Homo sapiens: one gene and its partner. The protein of the gene in region 1 interacts with the protein of each later gene in a pairwise test. Each region holds a gene or a part of one and is shown in the gene's direction. Other genes may lie near its edges.

The links.
Region 2: the proteins of CLEC2D (region 1) and TSPAN4 interact in binary tests that used the Homo sapiens proteins (3 or more experiments, as listed by UniProt).

The regions. Positions count from the first base shown.
Region 1 is NC_000012.12:9,693,564-9,696,882, forward strand, and holds part of CLEC2D (C-type lectin domain family 2 member D), read left to right. Parts: intron 1-1,196; coding exon 1,197-1,311; 3' UTR 1,312-3,319. UniProt on the Homo sapiens protein: Receptor for KLRB1 that protects target cells against natural killer cell-mediated lysis. Inhibits osteoclast formation. Inhibits bone resorption. Modulates the release of interferon-gamma. Binds high molecular weight sulfated glycosaminoglycans.
Region 2 is NC_000011.10:849,240-852,888, forward strand, and holds part of TSPAN4 (tetraspanin-4), read left to right. Parts: intron 1-616; exon of another isoform or gene 617-789; coding exon of another isoform or gene 790-1,065; coding exon 1,066-1,128; intron 1,129-3,649. UniProt on the Homo sapiens protein: Structural component of specialized membrane microdomains known as tetraspanin-enriched microdomains (TERMs), which act as platforms for receptor clustering and signaling.

The DNA.
Region 1 (3,319 bases):
AATAAAAAGAGCCCCAGACTGGACATTGGCAGGTTTGAAATGAGTTTTTTCTCATTAGCTTTTGACCTTGGATGGGATGGTAAGTTTTAGAAATCAGAGAACATGTACATTTATACATTGTTGTATCTACACTGCCTTGCACATTGTGACTGCTTCATAAATATCTAGAATTAACTTTTATTTCTTATTTTACAATACGGAAGTAGTAAATTTTCTCTACCTAATTCTTAAAATGGTTTTTTGTTTGTTTGTATTTTTGAGAGACAGGGTCTTACTCTGTTACCCAGGCTGGAGTGCAGTAGTACCATCGTGGCTCACTGCAGCCTTGACTTCCCTGGCTCAAGTGAGCCTCCCATCTCAGCCTCCTGAGTAGCTGGGACTACAGGTGTGTGCCACCTTGCTTGGCTTTTTTTTTTTTTTTTTTTTTTTTTTCAGCGATGGGGTCTCACTATGTTGCCTGGGCTGATCTTGAACTCCTGAGCTCAAGCAATCCTCCCACCTCGGCCTCCCAAAATGTTGGAATTACAGGTGTGAGCCACCATGCCTGGCCTCTCAAAATATTTTAAGGATCAAATATATTATTAACTAACCAGTTTTTGGAAACTGCTCATCACTTAAAGAAATGTAAAATATTATATGATTAAGGTCTAACAAGTTTCAACAATTAGCAAATTATATCATAGATGATAGTGATTCCAATGAGCAAAGAGGAAAAATTTATAATCCAAATGCTGACCTAAAATATCTGTGCCAAGCCATCTAAACTCAGCTAAATAGCACTGCAGTTTCAGTACTAAAACCACCAGGGAAGTAGGAGGAATAAAATCAAGCATGGTTTTTAGAAATAGCTGCTGAGTCTTCAGTTATTTAAGGAAGCAAAATATTGGGAAACTGTGTAAAGAAAACGTGTCAGACTTCTCCCATCAGCCAGCTAAGGCTTTGGATGTACTTGAAAGAATATTATGCTTACAGACATGAAATAGGTTTGATTCAGGACTTTGCAGTATTCCTATAGTTGATTTATAACATCTCCTGCTAAGCAAAGCCCACTGACTAATTAGTCACCACTACACAAGGAAAAACAGCATTATTTTTAGAGGCTGAATTAATGTTAGTTTTCTCATTTTCTCATCTTCATTCTCTCTGCTGTTGAAGAAATGTTCAGTGGCCAACTGATTCTGCTTCTTCTCTTGCAGGTTTCCTATCCTGGGAGCAGGAGAGTGTGCCTATTTGAATGACAAAGGTGCCAGTAGTGCCAGGCACTACACAGAGAGGAAGTGGATTTGTTCCAAATCAGATATACATGTCTAGATGTTACAGCAAAGCCCCAACTAATCTTTAGAAGCATATTGGAACTGATAACTCCATTTTAAAATGAGCAAAGAATTTATTTCTTATACCAACAGGTATATGAAAATATGCTCAATATCACTAATAACTGGGAAAATACAAATCAAAATCATAGTAAAATATTACCTGTTTTCATGGTGCTAATATTACCTGTTCTCCCACTGCTAATGACATACCCGAGACTGAGTAATTTATAAATAAAAGAGATTTAATTGACTCATAGTTCCACATGGCTGGGGAGGTCTTGCAATCATGACAGAAGGCAAATGGGAAGCAAAGTCATGTCTTATGTGGTGGCAGGCAGGGGGACTTGTGCACAGGAACTCCTATTTATACAACCATCAGATATCTTGAGACAAGAACAGTATGGGGCTCCCTGGTGTGATTCCGTCCTGCGCGGCTGTTCTCTGGAGCAGCATTCATTTATCTTCGTCTGCCTTGTCTCCTACCTAAGTGTGTGTCGCCACCCGATGGAAGATTCGATGGACATGGACATGAGCCCCCTGAGGCCCCAGAACTATCTTTTCAGTTGTGAACTAAAGGCCGACAAAGATGATCACTTTAAGGTGGATAATGATGAAAATGAGACCAGTTATCTTTAAGAACGGTCAGCTCAGGGGCTGGTGCAAAGGATGAACTGCACATTGTTGAAGCAGAGGCCATGAATGACGAAGGCAGTCCAATTAAAGTAACACTGGCAACTTTGAAAATGTCTGTACAGCCAACGGTTTCTCTTGGGGGCTTTGAAATAACACCACCAGTGGACTTAAGGTTGAAGTGTGGTTCAGGGCCAGTGCATATTAGTGGACAGCACTTAGTAGCTGTGAAGGAAGGTGCAGAGTCAGAAGATGAAGAAGAGGAGGATGTGAAACTCTTAAGTATATCTGGAAAGCAGTCTGCCCCTGGAGGTGGGCAGAAAAAAGTAAAACTTGCTGCTGCTGCTGATGATGATGATGATGAAGATGATGATGATGATGATGACGAGGAAGCTGAAGAAAAAGCGCCAGTGAAGAAATCTATACGAGATACTCCAGCCAAAAATGCACAAAAGTCAAATCAGAATGGAAAAGACTCAAAACCATCATCAACACCAAGATCAAAAGGACAAGAATCCTTCAAAAAACAGGAAAAATCTCCTAAAACACCAAAAGGATCTAGTTCTGTAGAAGACATTAAAGCAAAAATGCAAGCAAGTATAGAAAAACGTGGTTCTCTTCCCAAAGTGGAAACCAAGTTCATCAATTATGTGAAGAATTTCTTCTGGATGACTGACCAAGAGGCTATTCAAGATCTCTGGCAGTGGAGGAAGTCTCTTTAAGAAAATAGTTTAAACAATTTGTTAAAAATTTTCCATCTTATTTCATTTCTGTAACAGTTGATATCTGGCTGTCCTTTTTATAGTGCAGAGTGAGAACTTTCCCTACCATGTTTGATAAATGTTGTCCAGGTTCTATTGCCAAGAATGTGTTGTCCAAAATGCCTGTTTAGTTTTTAAAGATGGAACTCCACCCTTTGCTTGGTTTTAAGTATGTATGGGATGCTATGATAGGACATAGTAGTAGCAGTGGTCAGACATGGAAATGGTGGGGAGACAAAAGTATACACGTGAAATAAAACTCAGTATTTTAATAAAGTAAAAAAAAAAAAAAAGGTATGGGGAAAACTGCCCCCATAAAGCAATTGTCTCCACCTGGCCCTGCCCTTTGCATGTGGAGATTATTACAATTCAAGGTGAAATTTGGGTGGAGACACAACCAAACCATATCAGATGGCTATATCAAAAAGACAAGAAATAACAAGCATTGGTGAGAGTGTGGAGAAGACGGAACCCTTGTACACAGTTGGTGGGAACACAGTTTGGTGCAGCCATTATAGAAAACGTCATGGAGGTTCCTAAAGAAATTAAAAAGAGAACTACCATATGAGCCAGCAATCCCTTTTCCAGATATACACCCAAAGGAAATGAAAT
Region 2 (3,649 bases), on another chromosome or scaffold:
AATCACACCTGCGCTTTTCTGTGTTCTGGAACCTCCCATATAGTCAAAGACTCAACGACACCTGCTCCATGCAGTGCAGGCTGACCCAGCCCCCCACCCGCCGCCGGCACTCAGGGCTTCCCCAAGGGCGCCCGGGGCGGAGCCGCTTCAAGTTGCCACCAGACAGCAACGGGGTCACCCTCCATTTGCGTAGTGCTTTGAGTATCGTTCTCGTGGTTGGAGGTCTCCAAGCCCGGCCCGGGGCCAGAGTCCGGGCGAGGTACCGTGGGGGGAAGGGCTGGGGGTGTCGGTCGCGGGCTAAGAGCTGCCCAGGTTTCATCCCCAGGCCCCGGCCCCGGCCTCCAGTCCCCTCAGGCGCCCTTCGCGAGCATCTTCCTCCCGCGCGCGAAGGTGGGGGGGCTGGGGCGCCGGCGCGGGCGAAGGGGCCGGGGTCGCGGCTGGTGCGTTGCCGGGGGCTGCGATTGGTCCGCCCAGGCGGAGCGCTGGGGTTTGCCGGGCGGTGCGGCGAGGAGGGGAGGGGTCCGCGCGGGGGCGGAGCCGCCGGGGATTGGCCGGGAGGGCGCGGGGCGGGGCGCGCGGGGTCGGGGGCGCGGGGGCCGCAGCGCGCGGGCCGGGCAGATGTTTGGGTTCCGCCGCCGGGGTCCGAGCGGATCCGCGCGACCCGCTGCCACCGCGGGGGCCAGAGCGGGAGCAGGAGCGGGGCCGGAGCAGGCGCCGGCCGGCGGGATGGGGCGTTCCGGGGCGGCGGGTGCGGGGCGCTGAGCGGCGGCCCCGGCACACCCGGGCGCGATGCGCCGCTCCAGCACGGACGAGTCCACGTACCGGCGCAGCCCCTCTCCGGAGGGCAAGGAGCCGGACTTCGCGCGCGGCGGCCCCTTCCGGCGCTACAGCAGCCTATACGGGCGCGCGGGCGGCGGGGACGCCGGGGGCTCCTTCTTCGGCCTGCACGCGAACCCCGGCCCCAAGGCGGCCCAGGCGCGCTACACGTCGCCCAAGGGCAACAAGTACGTGGTTTTCTACCTGGACCTCTCCTTCATCTTCCTCCTAGAACTGAAGCGCTGCGGCATGGCGCGCGCCTGCCTCCAGGCCGTCAAGTACCTCATGTTCGCCTTCAACCTGCTCTTCTGGGTGAGTCCGGGGGCCGGGGTGGGGGCCCGGGAAAGACCCGGGGTCCCTCCCGCGGCGGGTCGCGGGGTCTGGGGAGTCGGAGTCGCTGCCCCGGCCAGGCGTTGGGTGCGGTTGTGGGGATGGTCCCGGGAGGACCCAAGACCGCTGCTCCGGCTAGGAGCCTGGACTGGGCGGGTGGGGAAGGTTTGCACCATCGCGGGGTCCGCCCCCTGCACTCAGAGCGGCTGCCCCACGCCCTGGTCCCCTCTCCTCTCCTCTCCTCTCCTCACTTGATGAGACGGGACACGTTGCACACGTGCGCGCCGGACAGGGCCACCCGGGCACTGCGCCTCTCCTAGGGTCGGGGTTCGAGTCCGGGTCGTGGCCAGTTTTGCGCGGGGCCCCGGTGCCTCCTCTGCGCCCGCTCCCTCCTCGGTGCAGCCGTTATCCTTGCCTCGGCCCCGCCCCTCCAGGCAGGCGACCTGTCGGGCCCAGGGACTCACTTCCGAGGGTTTGAGCCGGCTGCCGCCAAGGTCCCCCAGTCGCCGGGAGGCGCTGCGGAAGGGAATCCTGGACACTGAGCAGGGCCGTGGGCCATCAGTGTTCGCGGGAGACACTGGCTTTCCCGCGCCTCCGGCAGCAGAGGCTTCCCTAACTTTTGCGGAGGTGGGGTCAGGTGTGCTCAGACCTGCAGTGGTGTCCGGGGGGGCCCTGTGTGCTGGATGGAGCAGAGCTGAGGTAGAGGGCGGACAGGGTTCCACCCCACCCCAGCCCCATGTCAGCAAGAGGTGGGGCAGGATTCCCACCTGGCCAGGTTGGAGCAAGCCTCATGGAGCCGCGACCCTGTCCTGTCCCTGGCTCCTGTGGAGGGCAGCTGCAGTTGGGGGTGGCCGAGGATGACCTGGACCGGGCCTGGGGCTTTGCTGGCTGGGCTGGGGGAGGTGAAGTGATACCAAGGTCATTCTGTGCCCTATTCTTAATTCCTGAACCAGCTCCTGCAGCTGGGAGTCGGGGGTGTGGCCTCAGCTCCTGCCTAGGCTCTGGGCTTCAGAAGGAGGCTGTCCATCTGCATAAGGTCCAGCTGGGCCAAGTGCCCAGAAGCCTGGGTCTGCCTTCCCACCTCTCCCCTCCTGAGCCCAGGCTCCTTCTCTAGCCAGCTTGGGGTGGAGGCAGGGGGGTCCCTGGGAGGGACAGCCAGCCTGGGTTGCCTGCTGAGTGTGACCCAAGGAGGCTCTTGGCCCAGACATCCACCTCCAGAAGGGGTCACCCAAGGGTTTGTTTTCTGCAAGAGGCTCTGGAGGGGTGAGGCCCAGGCCTGAGGGGCGCCTTGGAGGTAGGGGTGGTGGGAGGTGTGGGTGTGGTCTGGAGCTGGTGGGTGTGGGGGGTGGGCTGCAGGTGGCTGAGTGACCAGAGTGTTTCTGTGACGGGGGGACGGGGCAGAATGACTGAAGGGCAGTGGGTGTGGGGGCCCGGCAGGCAGGCAGGCAGGTCCTGGGAGGGGAAGCCCTCTCTCCTCTCCACCCTCCTCCTGTCCTCCGTGGCCTGGACACCTGCCTTCAGGGAGAAAGAAGAGGGTCCTTTCCCAGGGGGGGTCTCTCTGCTCTGAGAGCAGCCCGCCCTCATGGAGGACCCCCAGGTGGACCTCTCTTTGCTCTGTGAACCCCAGAGAAGCCTCCATTCCTACCGCATGGCAGACACACTCCCCCATCCTCAACCTGGGAAAGAACACACAAGGAACCCCCTTGGGACCCTATTCTGGGCTGGAAAATGCAATTCTCTCTTTTTTATCTTTGTTTTTTGAGATAGAGTCTTGCTCTGTCGCCTGGAGTGCAGTGGCGTGATCTTGGCTCACTGCAACCTTCCATCTCTGGGGTTCAAGCGATTCTCATGCCTCAGCTTCCCGAATTGCTGGGATTACAGGCGCGCATCACCACGCCTGTCTAATTTTTGTATTTTTAGTAGAGACAGGGTTTCACCATGTTGGTCAGGTTGGTCTCGAACTCCTGACCTCGTGATCCGCCTGCCTCGACCTCCCAAAGTGCTGGGATTACAGGCGGCCCCAATTATTTTTTATTAATCAATCACCACCTTCCCGCCAGTCCAGCAAACTGGAGCCCCGCTGGCTTCATACACCAGCCTTGGCCCCCCCCAACCCTGGGCTGGTGCCCAGTGGGGGTCTAAGGGTGGGGGCGGGGCAGGGGAAATAAGAATGAGTGGGGGTTTTGCCAGGAGAGTCTGTCCCGGGCTGATGTCCACGCCTGCTGTGCCCTGAGTCACTGTGAGCTAAGCCCTCTCCTCCTGGCGTGAGGCTATTTCAGGAGTCAGGCCTAGCGCTCCCCTTCCCCAGGGCTCCTTTCCTTTTGGGGGTGCCAGCCCCCTGTTGTCGGGGCTTTTGCCGCCCACTCCATTTCCTACTCGTTGGGAGACCAGGGGATACAACCTGGCCTCCTCCTCCTCCTCCTCCGTCTTCTCAGGGGCGAAGTTCAGGGGTTAAGGTGGTGGGAGGGACGTCCCCCCGGCGGGACCTCAAGATCCCCGCGTG